Regions from separate parts of the Homo sapiens genome. Here region 2 is linked to region 1. A link means that fine-mapping ties the variant in region 1 to the expression of a gene that starts in the linked region. Tissue or cell type: whole blood. Region 1 holds a variant in brackets; the other region holds the start of a gene. All regions are shown on one strand. Distances are between the middles of the regions. Region 1 overlaps SDC3 (syndecan 3). Region 2 holds the start of SDC3 (syndecan 3).

Region 1 (11,977 bases):
CTGGTGGTGATAAACCTAGATCCTCGTGCTCTGAGCCCACCCTCAGGCCGGCAGAGGCAGGGTGGGCGGCCCTGGAAGCTGAGCACACTCTGTTCTCAGGGAAGCTTGGGCTGGGTGGCTGTGACCTCTTGGGCTGCAGGAAACAATCAGCTATTCTTCCTCCTTCCCTCTTGATTCTGTTGCTCATATCTTGGGTGAGGGGGCCCAGAGGGAAGTGCTCCAACTTCCAGCAGTGCCCAGCCTATCTGTGCCCAAATACATGGTTTCCAGGCTCTGCCCTTGGCTCTAACAAGCCTAAGTCATAGTTCATACTAGAGCTGACCCTGATAGTTTGATTTCTACCCAAGCTCAGTATCACTTGTTCAATCAATAGGCAGTGTGCTGGGCCCTGCAAATAAGAATAACAGTAATAACAATACAACAACAGCAGTAATAATTGCCCACATTTGTACAGCACCTACTCTATGCCTGCCATAGTTCTAAGCACTATGCATATGAGGCCAGTACTAGTATTGCCCCCATTTTACAAGTGAGGAAACTGAGCACTGAGTTTGAATTGTTCACCCAAGGTCACATAGCTAGTCACTGACAGAGCTAGGATTTGAATAAAGGTTTGCCTGGTAAAACGTAGGTGCTGCAAAGAGAAGAATAGAAATCCAGCTACAGATGGGCATGTATGCCATGCTTCATGCCTCCAAATACCAACCTTATTGTCCTCATTTGCCTTCAAGGAAATCGAGGCTCAGAGAGGTAGAGCAAAGAGTCTGCTTGACTTCAAGACCATGCTCTTTCTACTCCTCCAAGCTGAAAATAAAATCACATCACTAGAACTCAAGAGAGAAGGGGAGAAGGGTAGGAGGGAGACGGCGGGCTGACAGCACTCAGAAGATGGGGCATTGCCTTCTGAAGCTTCCTGAGTGAACAGCCACTCATGCTTGGCTTTGAATCTTGGTAAACCAACCCCTCACATCATAGCAGGTGTCTAACTGGCCCACTCCTGTGAGGACCTCCCAGTGGCAGGTCTGGCCCCTTCACCCCATTTTATAGCTGTGCAGACTGAGGCTCCAAGGAGTCAAACTGTCTGAGGTCCCACAGTGAGGCCCCGGGCACCAGGGCTCTGTCCCTGAACTGCCTAGCAGTGAGGGGCAATCTTGGTGGGGCTTGGAGGTGGCAGCTGAGAAAGAATGACCCCCCCCCTCCCACAACCACCGCCACCACCACAGACCAGTGTCATCACACAGTCACAAGACTCTGGTTATCAGCTATCTCCCGGATAGACTGTACATGCTCTAGGGAGAGGGGTCGGGGCTGTTGTGGGGACCCCTCGGCTCCCAGTTCCAAGCACAGAGCCAGGCACAGAAACTTCATTGGAAGGAGGGAGGGATGGGTAGGATGGTGTACCAAAGCCATAGGCCTCGGGCTCCAACCCACTCCCAGGGCCAACAGCACCCTGCCTATCACATATTAAGAAGAAATTTCTTTCTTTTTTTTTTCTTGAGACAGGTTCTCACTCTGTCACCCAGACTGGAGTGCAGTGACGCAATCTGGGCTCACCACAACCTCTGACTCCGGGGTTCAAGTGATTCTCCTGCCTCAGTCTCCCAAGTAGCTGGGATCCTGACCCAGGCACCCACCACCAAGCCCAGCTAATTTTTGTATTTTTAGTAGAGATGAGGTTTCACCATGTTGGCCAGGCTGGTCTCAAACTCCTGACCTCAAATGATCCACCCACCTCGGCCACCCAAAATGATGGGATTACAGGCATGAGCCACCACGCCTGGCCAAGAAGAAGAAATTTCTAGAAGAAATATTTGTAGGACATGTAGAGCTTTCCCTCGAAGGAGGGAATTTTGTGACTGTTACACCCATACCTGGGGGCTGTCCCATTGCAAGGGGCAGAACAATCTCGTGTGCCCCCAGGGCGTACGAGCACTGGAGATGGGCAACACTGGAAAGACAGATTTCAGCTGAAATTAGTAAGTACTTCCAAATAGGCAGGGTGGCCTACTGGCCATCGGGACACACCCAGCTGGCTGGGACAGGACTTATGCCAAGTGGGGGCTGGAAAAGGGATTTCTACACCAAGGAGGGCCCCAAGGCTGGCCCAGCTCTATGACCCTGTGATGTCAGGAGTCGGCCTGTGATGATTCTGGGTCACATTCTCCCATCCCAAGGTTCTATTCTGTTCCAACGCCATCATCAGAGCCCCTGTGAGCTACGTGTTGACTGTGGCAGGTGCCGTGCTGAGCATTCTACCTCATGCAGTCCTCACAACATTCCACGTAGGGGATATTCTGACCCCATTTGACAGATGGGGAAACTGAGACTCACAGAGGTCAAGTGGCTTGTCCAGAGTCAGCGCTAGGAAATGTCAACACCTGGACTTGAAAACAGACTTCAGACTTAAAAGCCATCTCGTCTCGTCTCGGCTGCTCTGATTCTGGTATCCTGTGGTACCAAGATTTTCTCTGTGGCCTAAAGCCAGAGTTCCCCTGGGGGTGAACCACAGGCCCCTCTCACCACTGCCTGGCCCCTCCCAACCACAGCCCCCATCCCAGCCTCACCGCAGCGGCTCCGTGGTTTCCTGGACACTCTCAACCAACAGCAGCTTTTACCATAATGGTTCCCACAAGGGGCTGTTGGTCAATTTTCCCTGCTTGGTTCTCAATTTCTTTGATGGGGGAAGATGGCTGGGGCCCAGGGTGCGGCCATGGGCTGCCCTCCCCAAATGACCATATTTATCTCATACTCTGGACACGGCACATCATTTCAGCTTAATTTTATTTCCTCTTATAAATGGGCACAGCACAGGAAGTGTTAAAAAAACAAACAAACAAAAAAAAAAAAAAAAAAAAAAAAACAAAAACAAAACCAGTTCCTTCACAAGGCTGGAACAGGAGAGTACCCGCAGTGGGGCAGGCGCCTTGGTCTCTTTTTTCCACTGTCTTTTTCTTTTGTTTTTCTTATTTAAGGTTTTGGCCATGAACTCAGGACAGGTATGGTTAATAAACAGGTTACAGGGGAGAGAAGGGGCAGGGAAGGCCTGGGGGAGGGAATGGCAGACCCCCACCCACCCCAGGCAGGTTCTGTACAGGAGAAAGGACTCACAGGAGGGAGGGACACTGTCTTCAGGGGGCTCTCTGGAGCCACGCTGCCTACGAAAAATATTTACATGCATTTGCCACGCTGAGGCCAGGGTCACTGTGGTGCCAGGCAGGCACCTGGGGGATGCTGGGGCCATCGGCTCTCAGATGGCAACTCCCAGGGCCCAGTCTCGATGCCTCTGTAAATCTGTACAGTTTGCGGGCTTCTATTTACAGGCAAGAGGCCTGGGGAGGCAAGTCCAGGGTTGTAGTTGTTGGGAGAAGAAATCCAGAGAACACAGGAGGCAGCCACTCCTACCCCATGAGGCAGAGGGTCTGCTCCCTGTGTCCAGGGGCCCCCACCAGGAGGCCTGACAGGCGGCTTTGCCAACCCCAGGGGGGTTTGGCCCACACACCCTAAGCCCTGCCCAGCCCTGGTTGCCACCCACATGCCTCCAGCGATCAAGGGGACCAGTCTTTCAGGCAAGGCCCCCATCTGGCCTCCTGGCCTCCTGGAGACAGGGTCTGGGCTCTCCAGGTCCTGGCCTGCCTCGTGCTCTGGCAGCCAAGGCCCCAGAGGCTCTCAAGCCACAGAAGCTCCCTCTCATTTGGAACTCCCTGTGCTTCCAGCAAATGCCAAAGCCCCTCAGAACACTCCATCACAGGCAGGGGTAGGGGGACATGAGGGCCCTGCACCCACATTGCACCTGGGAGAGCCTAGCTGGTCCTCACTGAACTCTCTTGGACTGCCTTGCCCCGGTCAGGCCGGCCAGGGCAGATTTGGGCTGGTCAGACTCCTCATCCTCAGGAGGATAAAGCCTGGACATCTGCCTTGGGTCCAGGGATCCATGAACAAGGCCCCTGGCCTCTTCTCTCAAATGCTAAGGACACAGAGAAGAGAAGCCAGTGCCTGGAGCCCAAGCCCCAAATCAGAAGCCAACCCCTGGGATGTGAGGAGCCAGGCCTGCCGGGGCCACCCCCACCATTGGCTCCAGCCCTACTGAGAAACTGCACCCACTGTTGGGTCTCCCACCTGGGGTCCAGCATCTTCTGGGGCTGGGGGCCCAAGCCCTTTTCTCCTCTATCCTCCCTGGTTTCTCAGCCTCGGCCTGCCCAGGCCGTCTCACCAGAGCTGTGCTCTCCAAGACAGCAGCACCCCAGGGAGCAGGGTAGGGAGGCTGAGCCTTGTGGTCTGTGGCCCCAGGACCCAGCCCTTCTGCTCCAAAGATGACTGAGGCCAACCCGCCCCCTCCAGATATCAGGGGCCCCCCATGCCCACTCTTCTAAGGCTGGGTCCACCTGGCTTCCTCACAAGCCTCTGGGCCCTGTGAAGGAGGGTTTTGGGACTGGAAGATGGAGCCCAGCCTGGAAAAGACAGGCTGTGGGACAGCCCCTGGAACCTCCCCCTCACTGCCTACACACCGCTACCCCTCATCCTGCAGAAATCTGCTGCCAGGGCATCTTGAAAAGGGCCCTGAAATAAAACCTGCCTTCCTGACTTGAATCTGGGATGTGGGTGAGGGGTGGGGGTGTGAGTGCCAGCCAATCGCAACTCACACCACATCCCTTTGGCTCCAAGAGGCCCCCTGCCAAGCACACCCTCCCCAAAAGATCTGTGACCCCACATTTAAAATACCGATGGAAATAGCCCTACTTGCTAGGTAACAAAGGAAGTAACCCCTCCCCCACTATCACCTGGTCTCATCCCTCAAACCCTGACCTCGGGGCCTGAGGGATCTGCAGGGGCTGCTTCCAGCCATGGCCCCTGAAGCTGCAGCCAGAATTGTTTGGCCAAATAGGTGAGGGGGTGTCCACAGGGAGGGCCTCTGGGCAGGTGGGCTGAGGTTGGCCTGCCAGGCAGAGGGCAGAGGGTGCGGAGGGCCCGCCCTCACAGGCACTTTGGAGACTTGTGTCCTGGGAGGCAGAGTCAGCCCCCTAGCTCAAAGCAGGAAGGGGACACAGGGAGATAAAGGAGCCCAACCACATGCCCCCTCCCTGCCCTGGGCCTTCCGTCCTGGGAGACCCAAGACCCCCCAACAACCTGGGGCCAAATTTCCTTCCTCAGCCTTAGAGGAGCCCCCAGGCTCCCAGCTAGTGGGGGTCTGGCCCCAAACCTCCCCCTCTGCCAGCTGCGGTGGGGAGGAAGCAGGTAGGGGTGAAGCCAGGCCCACCTGCATGCAATGCCCTAAAAGGGCTGTGGCCCCACACTTTTTCCGAGAAAGGCAAGGGCCTGCCTGTTTCCCTCCAGCATTGAGAGCAGGTCATGTGGAGTGAGACTGTGCATCCACATGGGATTGTGTCTGACACTGGCTGGGGTTGGCGGCTGCATGGTTGGTGTGGGCACCATGGCATGGGACTGAGTATGACGGGGCAACTTAGGGGGACCCAATATGGGCTGATTGTTCTGGCTCGATTCCACCCTCCCCAGTAAGCCTGAAAGCTGGAGACAATGTGTGTGGTGCCAGAGTGTGGGTGTATTTGGGGTAGGAGGAGGCCACACTGTCACTGTCATGTGACCATGACTAGTGACTTGCATTGCAGTACGTGTCTGGGGGTGTGTAAGTGATGCATGAGGATAAACATTCTTGGAAGGACGCGTGTGTTCTGTGATATGTCTTGATTGGCTGGGCGGTCAGGATTGC[G/A]TATGGTTTTGTCATTGCATGCTTTTGTCTTGTGTGTGACTGAGTGAAAATATGGTGATAGTGTGGGCAATGGTGTCTGTGCAGAGTCCCCTCATAGGAGGGACATCAGAGCAGCCCCTCCTCACCAGTGGCTGCCCCAGCACCCTCAGGAAGCTGTTTCTTGGGGGAAGATGCAGAAAGAAATGAAGTCTGGGTACATGTGTACTTGGCAGGCAAGAGGAGAGATTCAACAACCCCAGAGAGACCAGGACAAAACAGGCTGGTGACAAGGGACACCCTCTCACCCAGCTAGAGAGAGGCCCTGGGATACGAGCAAGAGGTTGCAGTGTCTAGATGATTTCAAGGGCTGTGTTTACCAAATGTTTGTCCTGGAAACCAGCCTGAGTGCCTCTCTGCCCCAAAAAGGAGATCTCAGTGAGCACTGTGGGTGCCAAGTCAGGGCTCAGGCTCATCTCAAGCCCCACCCTTTCTTCCACCACCAGCCAATCAGGAGCTTTCTTCCTCCCATCCATCTGACATGAGGTCCTGAAGCCCCAGACTGGTGGCAGGGATGAGGGGAACAAGAGATGAGCTCGTAAGGGCACAGTCTGGGGCAGATGGCAGCAGCCCCTCTTCCTCGGGGAAGATCTGTGTGAGGCTGGCAGCCTGGGCAGACCTTGGGAGAGAGGGCAGAGAAGAACTGGGGCCAGGTTCCAGGCCCAGTCCCAGGCTTGGGCTGGTGGGGCCAGGCTGGGGACTGGACAGCAGGGTGGTGTTGAGGCTGCAGGGAGGCACTGTGGCTCCACTAGGCATAGAACTCCTCCTGCTTGTCAGGCTTCTGGTATGTGACGCTCGCCTGCTTGGGTTCCTCCAGCGTGTAGCTGCCCTCATCCTTTTTCTTCATACGATAGATGAGCAGTGTGACCAAGAAGGCAGCAAAGAGGGCGCCCACCACCCCGCCCACAATCACAGCTGTGGAAGAAGAGGGCACAGGTCAAGGCCCAGAGGCAGGGTAGAACCAGGGCAAAGGGTCCTCAGGGGTGGGGGCCAGGGTGAGGAGAGGGCTGGGAGTCCCAGATCTGAGTTGGAGTGATGATGGAGTCAATACTACTACTACCAGCACTGGGTACCATCATAGGCCTTCACTGGCTGCATTCTAATCGCCCAACACACTAACTCACTGAACCCTCACACCAGCCCTATGAGGGAGGGGTCATCTGAGGGCTTCATCAAATTTAAAATGCCACCACTCATAAGATGCCCCAGTATTTTATAACTGCTAGGAAAGAAAAAGCTCTGCTAACTAAATATGACATACCCCAACTACAGAAGACTTAACATGTGAACAGATGTGCCTCTTAGAATTGATTAAGGGCAAAATGACTATCCCCATTCTACCGATGAAGAGAAGGAAGACTGGAGAGGTGAAGTACCTTGCCTTGAGTGCAAAGCCAGGATTTGAACCAGGAGTCCACAGACTCCCTAGATGCGGCCAGGGCAGGTCCACAGGGACTGGGGTCAAAAACTGGGGAAGGTCAAGCTGAAGGATGGGTCAGAGATTAGCATCTAGGAAGTAAGGTCCCAGGGGGTCAGCCAGTGTGGCCCAGGAAAGCAGGGATCAAAGTCAGAGTCCACAGAGGGGTCAGAGGACACTGAGGGAAGACCTAGAGATGGACATGAAGTCAGGGTTGGATATTGGGAAGGAGGAAAGTTGGGAGGAGCCAGAAGGCAGGTCCTGGGGGGTTGAGTTCTCAAGTTTCCTTCCTATCTGGCTCCTAGGAAACCACGCCCTGATCTCCTTTCTGGGTTCCTAGAGGCAAACTGAGGCCCAGCCAGCTGTCTCACTCTGGTATCCTCCCAGGCTCCCCTTGGCCCAGACCCCAAGCCTCACCTACGAGCACCTCCTTCCGCTCCAGGATACTCTTCTGAGGCAGCTGAGCAGCTGAGCTGCCCGAGTCGATGGCATTGTCCAGGAGGCCAGGGCCCGGGCGGGCACCCTTGGGCAGTGTCCCAGGTGGAGATGATGCCTTGGCCGCAGCCCCTCCCACAGCTACCACCTCATTGGCTGTGTCTGGTTGTGTGGTCTCTTCTTCTGGCAGCTCGAAGTCTCCACTGGGCCCCCCACTCACCGGAACCTCTGGCTCATCCCGGATTGTGGTCAGGAAGGTCTCTGGAGTTGGGGTCTGCAGAGAGGGTGGCATGAGCCCAGGACAACCACACATGCATGCATAACCCCCCACCACCATCCTACTGCCCTGGGGGGCTAACACTTAGCACTCCCTACATGCCAGGCACTGTGCTACACACTATCCCCATGAAGGAGTGTAACAATGCCCCCAGTTTACAGAGCAGGAAGTCAGCTCAGAGCATAAATGACCTGCCCAAGGACACACAGCTAGTAAGTGGGGGACAGAACTAAAATTCAGATCTATCTGTCTCCACAGTCTGTGTTTCTAACCACTAACACACTGCCTCTGTTCTTGCTCTGGACATCCTGTCCCCCTCATGTCCCCTCCAGCTGCCTTAGTAACAATCCTTGGGGGATTCCTGCCGAGAAGCTGTTTGGGAACTGCTGGGTGCAGATGCTATGGATGTGGGCCTGGTCCCAGTCCATGCCTAAGGCAGGGGAGCATTCTGTAGCCTGGAGGCCAGTCCAAGAGCACAACCTGCAGACTATGATGGCCTCAGGGGCAGGTGTCCCGGAAACCAGCTCAGTGACTGACAATCTCTAGGGCTCCCACCACTCGGAGGCAGGATCAGAGCTGGGAATGATGAGACCAAAGTGGGGGCTGTGGGAGCCATCAGAGCAGGGATGTCGCTACTTCAAAGGTGGGCATGGAAAGGCAGGCCTGATGTCCAGGCTGAAAAGAGGCTGCAGCAGTGCCCCAGCGTACACAGCGTGCACAATGGCTCCTCCAGCAACCTGGGCCCTGTGCACCTTCTCCTGGGCTCCGTGCCCCATCACTGTTTCCCCTTCCTGCTTGGCCAAGTCTGTGTGAAAACACCAGGCTGCCCCAGCTGCTTGAGGAGGCAAGGGAAGGGCCTGCATCCTGCTAGAGCTGGCTGGGGAGTCAGAGGGACTGACACTGACCCCAAGGCAGCGCCACGGCCCAAGGGCCTTCCACAGTGAGGCCAGCTGCAGAGGGCTCTGGCACCCAGTCCATGTTCCCACCTCTCCATCTTACTTAGTGCACCCAGCTGGGACCAGACCACCTCTCTCATGTCCTTGGGATTCATCCATCCCTGGCACTCCTGACATCTTCATCCTCTTCCCATCAATTCCCCTGCCCCATCCAGAATATCCCAAATGCACACACATGCAGCCCTGGCCCTGCGAGACTGCCCGGCTCTGGCACCAACTGCCTGGGTTCAAATCCTGACTGTCATCGCTGGCTGCGGAGCCTTGGGAAGTGGCTTCACCTCCCTGTGCACCCACAGTTGCTCGTCTGTAAAATGAGATGACCACAGTGCTGCCCGTGGGGTGGGCATGAGGGCTGGGGCTAACACAGGTAAAGTGCTGAGCACTGACCCACACCCAGGCAGCCCTCCACAAGGCGAGTGATGCCTTCTCATACACCAGCTCTTAACCACCCTCAGACCCATGATAATAACAACCGTGATGACGACAGCAGCTGAGAACCCACTGGCTGTACCATCACCAGGCGCTGTTCTAAGCACTGTGGATGTCAGGAGACTTCACGCTCACAATGAAATGATACACATTCTATTGTTTTCTCCTTTCCGTAGATGAGGAAGCGGAGGTATAGAAATGATCAGGGACTGGCCTGAGGTCCCGTGACTAGGAAGTGGCAGTGGAAAGATTCTAATCCAGCTGCCAGACCACTGAATTAATTCTCTCAACCGAAACACTCAGCCCGGCCCCCCTTGTCACCAATGCACACGTTCACCCAATTCCTTCCCCACCAATGTCCCATCCCATTAGGATCCAACCACCCCAGCCCTCGTTTTCTGTCCCTCTTCCCTCCCTATCCGATCTCTGTCCCTTGGTCCTGCCCCTCGCCCCCACTTTGTCTGGCTCATCTCTATAGCCTCCTGGTCCTCAGTCCTGTCCAGCCCCATCCTCCTCATCCCTCCCCTGACCCACCCTCCTCCGCCCTCCTCCCTGTCCCTTCTCAACACCCTCACCTGAGCCACCTCTGTGGGTCCAGGGGCAGTGGTCCCCAGGGGCAGGGTGCTCCTCTCAGGGATGTCAGGCTCCTGGGTGGTGGCCGGCCTGGGAAGGGCTCTTGGCCGGGAGGTAGCTGTGCTGACCAGCCTGGGTGTTGGGGCCTCGGTGTCCAAGACAGCCGCCGTGGTGGGCGGGGAGGGCGCCTCGGGGGTAGTGGCCCGTGCCGTAGCCACTGTGGTCAGTGGGAGAGGCAGAAGCCTCCGTACGCCAGTGGTCCTTATAACAGCAGTGGTGGCCGTAAAAGGGGGTGCTGCAGGGGTGCTGGGGGTGGCGGTGGCCACTGTGGCAGGCACTGTGGCCACAGTCGGGTCCCCTGTGCTTGTGGCAGCAGTGGTAGCCATGGTAGTGGAGACGGTGGTGGCTCTCTGGCTGGGCTCTTCCGGGACTTCTGTCACCACCAGGGGGCTGGTGGCTGGCTCCAGGGTGGGGCGCTCAGAGGGGAGCTCTTCAAATGGTGTGCCCACAGGCTGGATGTTCGTGGTGGGCAGCACCGCAGGTGTGGTGGACACCGCCAGGGCTACATCTGGGCTGAAGCGCATGGCTGTCTCAATGCCCGACTCCTGCTCGAAGTCTGAGGGGGTGGGGGAGAGGGAGAGAGCTAGGGAGCTGGGTGGTTGTGAGGGGCATGAGGATCCCAGGTAAGCAATGGCCATCAAGATTAGGTCTCCCAACCCCCTCTCTTTACCCAATTTTCCCAGAAAAGATGAGAGAAAGGAGGAAGGCACAGCCCAGCTAAAGGTGGTCAGTTGCTGATGTTCCCCAACTTCTCTCTGCCAAGTCAAAAATTCTGGGGGCCGCCTCTCCCGGGAAGCCTTCCTTGACTATTCCTGCCCACCCAGCCTACAGTTTCTATGAGGTTGAATCCAGGCAGCAGCAACTGAGGCGCTACTGGCTGCAAAACTTGCTGGGGCTTGCAGGGGAACACAGGAGTGGCATTCTGGGAAGAGTCAGACCCCAAAGGCACCCCTACCACAAGCTCAAGGCAGGGGTGGTACACTAAGGGCTTCCCCCAGAGGCAGAGGCGGAGGGTAAAAGGGAAAAGAAGCCCTTGAGGCAGGGGAACTGCTTGAGCAATCTGGCTGACGCAAAGCCGGGACAGTGAAGGAACTTGGGAGGAAATGAGATGGGGAGTAGGGGATGGGGGAGGGAGAAGCCACAGCCAGCTCCTGGGCTCGGAACCAGGCAGGAGGGAGGGGAGCCAGGGAACTTTGCGAATAGAGATGTGACCCAATATAAACGGGTTTTACAAAGATTAATTTGAAAGAGGCTCAAAGGACTTGGCTAAGGAGGGGAGACCAGAGGCGAGGGCTGTGGGGAGCCAGCTCTGTGGCGTGCAGACCCCGTACCATCTCCTCAGATGCCAGCCCGTGCCCTCACTGGGCCCAGTCTCAGCTGCCTTCTTTTTGCTACCATTTTGAGAGCTCCTCCTCTGTGCCAGACCCCAGCTTCCTATCCCAAACCCTCCTAGAGGCACTGAGAAGAAGTCGTATTTCTCACCATCCACAGGTGAAAATACAGGGATTCAGGGAGGGGGAGCACCGAGGGGCACACAGTTGCTACATGGCAGAGTGGGGTTCGCGGTGCCCTTCTCTCCCGAGATTCTGCTAGACCCAGCTGACCTGGCTCCCCTTCCCCAGGGCGGGGCCATCCCAGGCACCACTTGAAGCACCTGCCCTGTGTCATCACTGCCCTAACCCCACCATTGGCCACAGCTTATTGCACCTGACGGGACCACCGGAACCAAGCAAGGTCTGCAGAGAAAGCCACATAGCACACACAAAGATGCAGACGTGGGACCCTGGAGACCTGGACATTCTGGGCCCTGAGGTCCTCCCAGGTCTTGTTCTATCCCCAGAAGGATGTTCTGCCCTTCTTGTTCTGGGGATCCAGAGCAAGAAGAACTTGCCTGACCCAGGCAGTGAATGCCCCCTGCCTCACTGAAGCAAGCCCCCCGTGGGCTTCTCAGAGTTGAGGCTGGATACAGACTGGTCACTGCCCCCAGGCAGAGGTAGGGAGGGGGGTACTTACAGCCCGAGCCCGACCCCGAGTAGAGGTCATCCAGTTCATCATCGGGAAAGGAGTCA
Region 2 (11,977 bases), 35 kb after region 1:
TGCAGGAGCAGCCCGCTCCTTATTTACTTTAGTACTTTATTTACTTTATTACTTTATATTACTAATTCTCAAGCAACCCTGAGGTCCCATTTTAAAGAAGAGGAGACTGCGGGTTCAGAGAGGTTAGGTGAACTCACCAAGGTCACACAGCAGGAATGTGACAAAGCCAGGATTTCAACCCTGAATCAGCTGGCTCCAGGATCCCTACTCCTTCGATGACTTCAAGCTGCCCCCTCAGGCTTGGGACACCCCAAAACAGACATAGCACCAAGGCCAGGGGTGGGGAGAAGGCAGGCCTCAGCCAGCTGGGGCAACAGGGGTTGTAGAACCCTCTCCACCTGGTATAAAAGGCCAGCATAGGCGTTTCCTGCCCTCCACCCACAGCAGCCAGGTAAAAAAAGGGCCAGATCATTTGTTGGGGCCACCGCCACCCCCACTGCTGGGCCCTCAGCCATGGCCGCTCAGGCTCCCCCTGTAATCACGGCTTCCTGTTTGGCGCTGAGACTGGGCTTGGCCAGTGGGGGAGGGGAGTGGCTGCCCCTCTGGCCATGGCGGGAGGGGGGCCGGAAGTGAAGGCCACCAGGCCTCCTGGAATCTGGGGAGGCTGGGAGCCAAGGGGAGTGAGGGTGTGGGGGGTGCCATCAACAAATATTTACCAAGAGCCAGCCCGATGTTCCCAGGATGTGATGTTATGGAGGACAGAGGCCTGGAGGGGCCAGTGAGACAGGTCAGGAAGTCCAGGACCCTGCTCCCTGCTGGGACAGGGGTTTGGGGGGATGATGGGAGCAAGGGCCTGGGGCCTGGGCAGCTCCTGGCTCTGGCCACCCTGTCCCTTGAGACACAAAATCAAAGGGCTCCAAGCAGCTGGGCTGTAGTCCAGAGCCACAGTCCCTCGGTCCTGCCCAGATGTGGTGGTGGCAGTGCCTTGGCACTCAGACTGAAGGCCCGCCCGATGCAGCCCCCTGGCGCCTCCCAGCCCACGGGCACATGCCTTGCATGCAGCAGGACTCTGCCAGCCTCACTGTCCCCAACCCACCTACACAGGAAAGGACACAAGCCCCTGCCTGGGCTCCATAGCTCACAGTCCCGGCTTCCTTCATTCCTTTATTCCCTCATTCATTCATTCATTCCTTTGAATCATTCACTCGAGCCTGCACCAAGCACAGAGTGGTCCCTGGGGGTTCAGTGAGAAAACATGGCAGCCACGAGCCTGCCCAGGAAGCTCAAAGTCTATCAAGAAAGCACTGACATCACTCCTGACAGCTGGGGGACCCCCACCAAGTCACACCCCATCTCTAAGCCTCAATCACTATGAGGCCAGAGAGAATCTTGGCTGCAATGGGGCCAGTGCTCAGAGATGGAGCAGGAGGAACACGGATTTGGCCTCCACACACTTTCTAAGGGCCAGAGGGGGTTAAAGGCAGGCCTGGTCACCTCTGCAGACTCAGTCCCCAACACTGGGGGCATCTGGCACATATCAGGGCTTATGGTGGCTTTTTAGACCCCTCTCATCCTGAGATTCCAAACATTTCCCCTCTCCTGTGCCCTGACCACATGACCCAGACATAAACTCCCTTCCGCATACACATGTGTGGGCACACACACAAATGTACACATGCACGCACACACAATCTTGCTGACAGCCCTTCGCAGTTTATAAAGCTCTCTCTCCCCACCCCATACACCCCCAGTGGCCCTCAGAGTAGCTGCTTTTATGGGCTACAGAGCCTTGGGAGGCGGTAGATGAGGAAGAGCCCTGGCCAATCCCTCCCACAGGGTGAGACAGCATCACTGACCTCCAGGGCTGTGGGAGAATTAAGTGAGAAAAGATATGGGACCAACCCCCTTCCCAGCCCCACCCCGCCAGAAGAGCAGGCATTTACTAAACAGTAGCTAATGCAGACATAATCCAGGGGGTAGGGAGGCCCCAGAGAGGTAAAGCAGCTTGCCTAAGATCACACAGCAAGAGGGGGTAAATTTAGGACTGCAGCCCAGTCCCATTAGCCTGTCAGGCCCTGGCTCATACTAGCTCTGCCACTTCTGGCTGTGTGACTTTGAGTAAGTCACTGAGCCTCTCTGTGCCTCAGTTTTCTCCTCTGTAAAATGGGGGTTCTGGCTGGGGGTTGTGGCTCACAACTGTAATCCCAGCACTTTGCGGGGGCCGAGGTGGGAAGATCACTTGAGGTCAGGTGTTCGAGAACAGCCTGGGCAACATGGTGAAACCCCATCTCTACTAAAAATACAAAAATTAGGCAGGTGTGGTGTCAGGTGCCTGTAATCCCAGCTACTTGGGAGGCTGAGGTGGGAGAATCGCTTGTACTCAGGAGGCAGAGGTTGCAGTGAGCCAGGATCATACCACCACACTCCAGCCTTGGCGATAGAGACTCTGTCTCTAAATAAAATAAAATACTAAAATGAGGATTCTAATAATTCCTACATCAAAAAATTATTGTAAGGATGAAATAAGCCGATACATGTAAAGTGCTTGGTGGGCGGGGCTCTCGGTAAACATGACCTCTCTCTCCCACTTGGGATGAGCCCCCCCTCGCTCTCCCCACCACTGCCACCACTCCTGCTGCCCCGGACCCCCCAGGGACCCTATGCCCGCTTGTATGAGGTGGGAGGAGCCACTGGGTTTCAAAAGGCCATTTTTTTTGTTTTTTGTTTGTTGTTTTCTTTCACTTTTTTTTCCAGCACAGCTCACCTCGCACCAACCCCCAACACACTGAACTCACAGCTGGAGGCATTGTGCTCACTCCTCCCCAGAGAGCAGGAGGCTTCAGGTTCAAATCCCAGCCCTGCCTTGAGGATAGAGTCACAGCCCCCAGTAGTGATTCTAAAAGCCAAGTATTTGTTGCCCCCAGTTGACAGGTAAGAAAGCTGAGGGTCAGGGCAGGTTACAGCCTGCTACTGTCATGTGATGACCACTTTCATTGCTTAGCTCAAAACCCTCCTCCTCCAGGAAGCCTTCCCTGACCCCATCCATGCTCCCTCCCAGAAAGGTCCCATCTCCTGAGAGCTCACTACGTGGCAGGTGTGCTCGGTCTACTCAAGCAGCTCATTTCCAAGTCACAACATCCCTGTGAGGCTGACACCATTACTGTCCGCATTTTATAGACAAGGACTTTGAGACAGAAAGAAATCCCTCACTGGAAATCACACAGCAGGTGTCTGTCCCCAGAGCCCCTGGTACCTTGGGAGCTAACAGGCAGCATACAGCTGTGGTGTCCCTGTGCCTGTCCCCCAAATGCTGGAAGGGGAGATGGTTCACCCAAGAGCCTGGCCCAGAACAGCCCAGGGGCCCCCAACTTTCCATTTTTTTGGTGAGGACTATCTCATCCTGGAAACCCAAGGCTCACAGTCACCCAGGGGAGCCTGGAGGGGAGAAGAGCAGGGATGCTTGAAACAGGGTGAGGAAGGAACGGAAACCACCAGGCCTGGGGCTGAGCTTCAAAAGAATTCCCTACTAATTCCCCCACCCCACCCCACCCCCACCCCCACCCCCATCCGTACTCTCTCTCTCTCACAAACACACACACACACACACACACACACACACACGTCTCCCACCCTTCCACTCCCCACCCCTCCTGCCTTCCCAACCACAGTACAGCAACTTTGTAAAAGAACAAGAAATCCATATTTGTTGAGCCCTTAGTAGGTGCCAGCCACTGGGCTAAAAGCTTTCCAAATTAAGCCCTTCCATTCTCGCATTGTCTCCATTTTAAAGAGGTGGAAACTAAGGCACAGAGAGGTTAGGTAACTTTCACAAGGTCACACAGCCACAAGGTAGTGGTCTCCCATCACTGGGAGTATTCAAACAAGACTAACACCTAAGATCCCTTCCAGCCCTGGACTTTTGAAAGAACATGTTTCAAAAGCTAAAATGTTCAGGATCCTCACACTCCAAAACTTTGAGTGGTGACTTAAGTACAGTAGCTGAGGTGGCCTTAAAGGCAGATGTCCCTCAGAGTCCTGGTAACTTGGTCTGTCAGAAGAGGGACTCCTCAAAGGAGATGCCAGGAGACAGACACAGACACACAAACACACACACACACACACACTGCAATTCACCATCTGCAGTGTGAATGAGGCCTGCTCTCCCTGCTATCCCCATGCTGAAAGACACGAAGACACACACACACACACACACACACACACAAAGGCTGGCAGGTGACCCAAGGGTCATCATGTCCCTGCCCTTCCCTGCCCTGTGCCAGCCACCGCTCATCTACCAAGGCCACCCCTGGAGCTTCCCTGGCTGGGGCTCTTCTGATCTAACCTCAGTCCCTCCTGCTGCAGGCACTGCCCTCTCCCTCTGGTGCGGAACCCCGGCAACCAGGTACCACCCATTAACCCTTTTCCTCCCAAGTCAGATGAGGACAAGAGGGATGATGCCCCTCCTTGACAGCTTGACCCATGGGAAGATGTGAGGCCTGGAGGACACTCCACTTCCCACCACCTCACCAGGCGCCCCAGTACCTGCCCTCCCCCAGGCCCCACCCACCATTTCAGCCTCTGGGCTCAGACTCCCAGGGTCTGCTTGATCTGCCACCCAACACTGGGTCTGAGCCACACCTCTCAGATTCAGGTCACCCGTGTTGCGAGGCCCTACTGTGCATGAGGCTATTAAATGCTCTCACTAAGTCCTTCCACCACCTCGTGGAGTATGAATTATTAGCCTTATTCAGCAAGGAAAGTGGCCTGCCCAGCGCTCCACCTGGCCTCCAAGTCTAAAGCTTTCTGTCCTGAGCCCCTTTCATTCATGTGCACACCACATGACTCCTGAGCTCCTTCTCAGGACACTCGTCAGTCATCCCATTGAATTTTTGCCCTCTGAGGAAGGGGTCATTAGCCCCATTTCACAGAGGGACAACCAAGGGTCAGAGAAGTAAGAGGACCTGCCCAAACCATGCCACGAATCGGCGGGGGTAGCAGGATTGGAACCCAGGGTTGTGTGATTCCCAAGCCTTTGATTTTAAGGATGGTCTTTCAGAAATTTGGCTGAGAAGGCGACCCCAGCTGCTAGGGTGTGCTGGGTCTCTATCCCTCCCAGGGACCTCTTCCTCTCACCCCACTTAGGGGAGAGCTGGGAATGAGACATCCTGGCCAGCAGGCACTTCACACAGGTCAGCCCTCAACACTTCCCCTCCCTCCAGCTGACAGCCCCCTAGATGGGGAAGGCTGAGGAGGGGCCTGTCCATCCAAGAAGCAAGCTTGGAGCCCCTGCCTGTCCTCCTCCTGTCTTACTGACTGGCCCACTGAGGCTGGGAAAGGGAAGGAACTTGCAGAGGGCGGCTGGGCACCCAGTGTTGCTTGAGAGGCCTGGGTCCTTTTCAGCCTGGGGGATGCAGGACAGCATAGCTCCTGGAACCAACCTGGGAGGCTGGACCTAGAAATCCCCAGCCCGCCTGAGCCAGAACCTGGACACTTGTCCAACAAGAACTCATCTGGGGCCTGGATCCCTCAAAGGGGGATGAGGTCCTTCCTTTCTCTGCCATCCCTGACGGAGCTGGGACCAAGCATGGCTGCTACGGTCACTCAAAGGGACACTCAAGGGTCACCTCATACATACCATCACCTCCACCTGCACATGCTTGGTTCCCCTCAGGGGTCCTCGTCCTATGTCCAGGGTCCCCCATGCACCTGCATGCACACGCTGCTATGTGCACTCACACACATTCATGGGTCCAAGCACACGCCCACCAGAGGTCTTTCACACACACACCCTCACCCACTGCAGCCACACACGGCCATAGCCAACAGTGGCCCAGCCAGGCACAGGCACACATCATGCACAATGGGTCACCCTCCCACGACCACGGACGGGAGGGCACGCTGGCATCCACCCATGTGGCAGACACATCCTTCACCTGCACACGCCCCACAGGTCCCCGCACCCCTCACTGAGTTGGCCACACACGCCCACACACGCCCACACACAGGGTTACCCTCACTCCCCCCTCAGGTCACCTTCACCAAGTCACCCTCCACCTCCACCTCCCCTTCCCGGGCCCACTGCCCTGGCCGGCTGCCGCGACCCTGGGAAGAACCAAATGCACACCCTCCCCTCGGAAGGGGAACCGATCCGATTCCCAAAAAGTGGCCATGGTCTGGGCACACCCACGAGGCAAAAGCCAGGCTCACTCCCACCCCAAGACACACCCAGCCGGGACGGCGACCCCCAGCCCGCCGCCGGGTCCTTCTCGCGCCTCCCAGGCCAGCGCAGGGGTCCCGCTTCGTCCCCGGGGAGACAGTTCCCGGAGCCACTGGGAGGTGGGGGAACAGGGCTGAGGACCCGCGATCGGGTTCCCTCCCGGGATTCCCTCTGGGGAGGGGTCCCAAAAGGAAGGAGAGATGCGCCCCCCGAAGATGACCAGCGGCGGGGGCGGCCTCTCCCCGCGGATGCCAGCTAGGGGGAGATTCCGGAGGGGGGGGAGCAGGGTGCAGAAAGGGGCGCTCGGGGGAGGGTCGAGGGGTGGCAGGGACCGCGGCCCCGGGGGAAGCAGCCGGGGGGGAGGGAGCGGGGTCCCGGAGGGGGGGTCGCGGGCGGGGACCGGCACCCCGCGCGGGGGGCGGCCCCGGGGAGCCGTGGCGGGGATCCGGGCGCGTGTCACTCACCCCCGCGGCGCGCCCCGCCAGCAGCAGCAGCAGCAGCGGTGGCAGGAGCAGCCCGCGGGCCCCGGGCCCGGCCGCGGCCCCGGCCCCGGCGCCGGCCCCGTGGGCGGCCCCGGCACGGTGCGGCGGCCCCGGCTTCATGGCGGCGGCGCGGGCGCGGGCGGCGGGCGGCGGGCGGGCGCCTTTGTTCCCGAGGCGCGGCGCGCGGGGCGGCTGCTTGGCGGCGGCGCGGCCCGGCGGCTGGACCGACGCGCTCTAGGCTCGCGGGCTCCCGGCTCGGCCGCCCGGCTCCGCCTCGCAGCTCCGCGCCCACAGCGGCCGCGCCCGCAGGAAGCGTGCGCCGCCGCCGCCGCCGCCGGGCCGCCCCCAGCGCGGGCGGAACGGAGGAGGGGCCCGGGGCGGGGCGGGCCCCAGTGCGCCCCCCGCGGGGCTCCGCGCCCTCTGACCCCAGTCCCAGCCCCCGCCCCCACCCAGAGGGAGCCCCGCGCTGCCGAGTGGGCACCCGGACACCTGAGTGAGCAGCCGGCCTCGCCGATCCCGGGGCTGGAGGTCGCGGAGCCCGCCGGACGCACCTCCGCGGCCGCCGTGCTAGGTAGAAGGGAAGGGTCCCGCGTGGGATACCAGGGCCCGGGCCTGGCTCCCTGAAGTCGCCGAGCGGAGGGGTCGCATGGGCGTTTTCATCTACAGCCTCCCCCTGTGGCTCCACGCACGTGTCTCTTCCTGGACTCCCATCGTCACCCTCACACACTCAGCCAGTCCACCCAGTGGGCCAGAGGTCATCCAAGACCACGGGCTTTCATGCCTCCAGGACACCCAGGGGCTGTGTGACCTCAGATCAGGGCCCGGCCCTCTCTGGGCCTCGGTCTCCCCAGGGGACCATGGGGGTGGTCACTTCTGGGCCCTGTCACTGTGGATCTGCAGAGGAAAAGCCACGCAGACCTGAGCGCAGCTGCTTCCACACCAGCTGTGCGCCTCCAGCAAGGCCCCCAGTTCTCTGAGACTCAGACCCCCCATGGTTGAATGGGACCACCCCCTCCAGTGCAGGATGGCGAGAAAAGTACATCTCTGAGTGGCAGTCTCTAGCGCTGGTGGTCTTTCTACCCTGTGTGGTCACGGTGCCTTTTCCCCCTTCACCTTCATCCCCAGCGGCATACCCCATGCTGTTCTTACTTCTCCAAGTCTCCAATGGCGTGTTAGCTCCAGCGGGGGCAGGGTTTTGTGTCTGTCTTGTTCACTGCTATGTCCCCAGCACCAGCACAGAGCTCGGCATGACATCGATGCTCAATCCAAATTTGCTGAATCAATGAATGTGTTTCCCATTTACTGGGGCTCAAAACCAAGTGTTTTGGGGCAAGATAGGGGAGAGTGAAACATTTCTGGAACCCTGACCACATGCCAGGTGCCCAGCGCTTTCATGTGTTATATCATTTCTCAGGAACCCCATAAGGTCGGTCTGTCAATATCTTCACTTCTTAGGTGGGGAAGCTGAGAGCCAGCAAGAAGAGGTTATTTGCTGATGACAGCTGGCTGGACGTCTCTACCCTCAGTTACTCTCCTCTCTGGCCCCTGTGTCCCAGCACCCAGCTTAGAGCCTGCCATTAGAAAATAGGAATGAAATCAGGCCGGTCGTGGTGGCTCACGCCTGTAATCCCACCACGTTGGGAGGCCGAGGCGGGTGGATCACGAGGTCAGGAGATCCTGGCCAACATGGTGAAACCCCGTCTCTACTAACAATACAAAAAAATTAGCCGGGCGTGGTGGCGGGCGCCTGTAGTCCCAGCTACCAGGAGGGTGAGGCAGGAGAATGGCATGAACCCGGGAGGCGGAGCTTGCAGTGAGCCGAGATCGCGCCACTGCACTCCAGCCTGGGCGACAGAGCGAGACTCCTTCTCAAAAACAAAAAAAAAAAAAAAAAGAAAAGAAAAGAAAATAGGGGAACGAAATTGAGTTGAAACTGGAACAATTCCCTCAAGGAAAGGGGAACCAAAACCAGGATGAATGGAGGGGCAGGCCTTGAGGAAGAGACTCTGGGGGACCAGCCATGGGTTTTTGGTGTTGGGGGTAACTGTACTTGTCCTGCAGGGCCCTTGGGAGGAGGACCAGGGGACAAAGGTCAACTCAACATAAAGTAGAGATAAATTAGAAGGGGCTCCCCAGGAGGGAGGGAGAGCCCAGTCCCTAAAGGGTATGAAAGGCAAGCTCACCACCCTTTGACAGGGATCCTGGACAGGGAAGACAGGGAGACTTTCGAACTAGGAATTCTGAGGTCCCAGCCTCTGAAAATTCAATTCTCAAATCTTTTGGCATGACATCAATGCTCGATCCAAATTTGACTGGCACCTTGGGGAGATGGGCAGGGAGGCTGATGGGGTGCAATAGGTGGGAAACTGGTTTCTGTTGAGGTAGCACAGCTTGGAATTGAAGAGCTCTGGCTCTGGGTCGGCCAAGTATCTGGGTTCAAATCCCAGTTCTGCCAGTTATGAGCTGTATTGTGTTGGATGTGTGACTTAACCTCTCTGAGCCTCAATTTCCCAACTGTAATATAGAGATAATGACCACGCAGAGTTCATTCATTCATTCATTTAGCAAGCATAAATTGGGTGCCTGCTGTGTGCCAGGCCAGGTACCAGGTTGTGAGGATTACATGAGCTCTTCCCTGCCATCGTAATGGAGTTCAATGAAGGTGGCTGGGAATGAAGCTTACAAAGGAAGGGACTCAGATGTAGGGATAACATCATCCTTCAGAGATGCTGAGCAGATCCCAGGAACATACCAACCCTGAGGCGCTCCCAAAGGGCCAGCAGGGTTAGGGTGGGGATTATGAGGAGCCAGATGTCAGCTGGCCACAGACAGCAGTGGCAATTCTAAGAGGCAGTAAGTATCCTGTCTTGAGAGGTATTCAAGGCTCGGAGAACTATCTAGCAGGGAGACCATTAGGATGGTTTCCATGAGTAAGATGGGCAGTGAGCATGGCCCATCTTCAGAGGTTCCTGCCAGCTCTGAGACTTCTGGAAGCAGCAACTCCACTTCCCTGACATCCTGGGGAAGAGGTGGGGGCGGGGCAGTGGAGAATCTTTGGTCTGGACAGGCCAGGAGCGCCACCTGCTGCTCTTCAAAGACACTGGTCACAGCCAGAACTAAGACAGGTCTGGGCCCCTGAAGGTCCTTCTCATCTTGCTCCCCCCGGGTCCCAGGTCTCCCTGGGGTTCACAGATGCACACATTTCCTGCCCTCAAGCACATGGGTCATCTGCACAGTCACCCTTGCCCAGGCCTCCTTGTGCATTGGAGCCACATCCCCACATACTCAGGGTCTCCCTTCATAGCACCATAACCTCACCCACAGGCACCAGCTGCTGCCGCCTCCTGGCACAATAGTCACAGCCCCCTCCGGCCTTTAGAATACACACTGCCTCCTCTGGGAAGTCTTCCTGATGTCCTCTGGGTGATCAGGCCTGGTCCTGTCCTGCCGGCATCCTGATCACACTCATCCTGCACTCCCCACCCTGCTTTCAGTCCCTACTGTCTGTCTTGCTCAAAAGTGGGAGCATTCAGTATCCCAAATGAACAGTAGCTATAGAAGGGCCCAAGTGGAGCTGATTATGGGCCAGGCACTGCTCTATCAAATGCACACTCACATTAGCCCCATTTCCAGATGAAAAACCAATACACAGAGAAGATAGGAGATATGCCGAGGCACCACGACTGGCAGTGAGAGCTGAGATCCTGACCCAGGCCAACAGTTAAACTGCAATGCCAGGCCCAGTGGTGTATTGGGAGGCGTTTGATGAATGAATTAGAGTCACCGAGGGGATTCACACAGTCACACACCAACATGCAGACATACTCATGCAGTCTGGCCCCTGGGGAACCCCACAAGGCACGCCTAGTGGCTACATCTCAACCTTTCCACCTCACCCCCACCCCAGTCAGAGCCTTCTCTGCCCTTGACAGGGCCTCCTAGCTCTAACCAAGCAGCAGAGGGGTGGGGACGCCTCAGCGGCATCTCTGAACTCCACTCAGGTGAGCCTAAGATGCCTTATTCAGAGTGGCACGCCCAGGCCTGACACAGAGTGGGTGCTCAGTAGCTGTCACCTGACTCTACCTGTCCCCCAGGGGATTGGCTAAGACAACCAGCTCTCTGGACCTCAACAGTCCCATGGCATCCTAAAAGCCAAGATTGATGGAGGCCTTACTACCTGCCAGGCACTGTTCTGAGCACTTGCCAAACACACCCTCATCTACTCCTCCCCACAGGCCTGTAATTTGGGCACGACAAGCAAACTTGCCTCCCAGGGCTGCTACTATGAGAACCAAATGAGCGGCCAGCCCTGGAGTCCGGCACACAGTGAGCCCTGTCCAGGTGCTTGCTCTCTACTTCGTCCCATTTCACAGCTGGGGAATCTGGGGCTCACAGGAGTTCAATAATTTATCCCAGGTCACCCAGCCAGGAAGTGGGCAGCCAGGATTTGAACCAGGCATGTGATGACAGAGCCCTGGCTTTTCACCCTGTGCTGAGCTGTCCCCCGTGGGCAGAGGGGACTTTATGATCCTTACCAGACCTCCCAAACACAAGTGCTGTCTCAGCTCAAGGCAATCACAGGGCTTGCAAAACAAGTCCCGGCCTCCCCTCGCCACCCCCATCTCCATCCTGCTCCCTCCCCACCCCAACCATCTCCCACCACAACTTCCGGTCTTGCCCAAGAGTCAGGATGGAGGCCACAGCCCAGGCTTGCTTCTGAGAAAGTCCAAGTGACAGCAGTCTTGGAGGTCAGTGACCCCCAAAACTGAGGAACCAAAACAGGGCTCTGACAAGAGGGCTCCAGATCAGGAGGATCCCAAAGTCCTCCTAGGGGAAGCTGGGGAGACTCAGAAGCCATCTGGTGCCCCAGTGAGTGGAAATCTCACTGGGGAAGGATCTGCAAGGCCTGTGGCCGGACCAGGGTGACTGGGAGAAGGCTTGGCCTTCCCACAACAGGGGTCCTCAATCGTGGGGAGCCTCCTGCCCGCCGAAGGGACCTGGCCCATATGAGGGTCTCACAGAGCCATGCCCCGCCCTTAGTACAGAGCCAGGCTCGGCCAGCCTTCCCTGACCTCCCTGTGTGCTGGGAAAGTCCTTGTAGGGTGAGAGGGTAGGTGACACCCCAGGACACATGGCTGCTAGACACAGGTTAGGATTTGAACTCAGGCCTCTTCCAGGTCTGTGAGCTGAGGGTTTGCAAACTGTAGATCCCAAAGCGTTCCTGAGGGCTGGTGGATCCCCAGGTTCCTCAGGGCTGGTGTGCGAGGAGGGGGAGTAATCAGATTTTGTTTGAGCTCTGTGGCCTGTAGGTCACAGAGCAAGGCCTGGGCTGGCCTTG

Evidence for each region.
Region 2: SDC3 starts here. The variant in region 1 is fine-mapped to the expression of SDC3 in whole blood (TOPMed, PIP above 0.99).

What each region holds. Positions count from the first base shown.
Region 1 is chr1:30,866,702-30,878,678 of GRCh38, forward strand. It overlaps SDC3 (syndecan 3), which reads right to left. Exons shown (of 5, transcript NM_014654.4): 2 at 11,922-11,977; 3 at 9,851-10,464; 4 at 7,596-7,887; 5 at 2,765-6,676. The coding sequence ends at 6,510. Among named protein-coding and RNA genes, the nearest start is that of SDC3, 36 kb to the right of the region's middle. RefSeq lists an enhancer at 3,835-4,706. The variant G/A (reference allele first, on the strand shown) is at 5,726.
Region 2 is chr1:30,901,828-30,913,804 of GRCh38, forward strand. SDC3 (syndecan 3) reads right to left here and starts at 6,931. Exons shown (of 5, transcript NM_014654.4): 1 at 6,622-6,931. The coding sequence starts at 6,759. RefSeq lists a silencer at 6,886-6,975.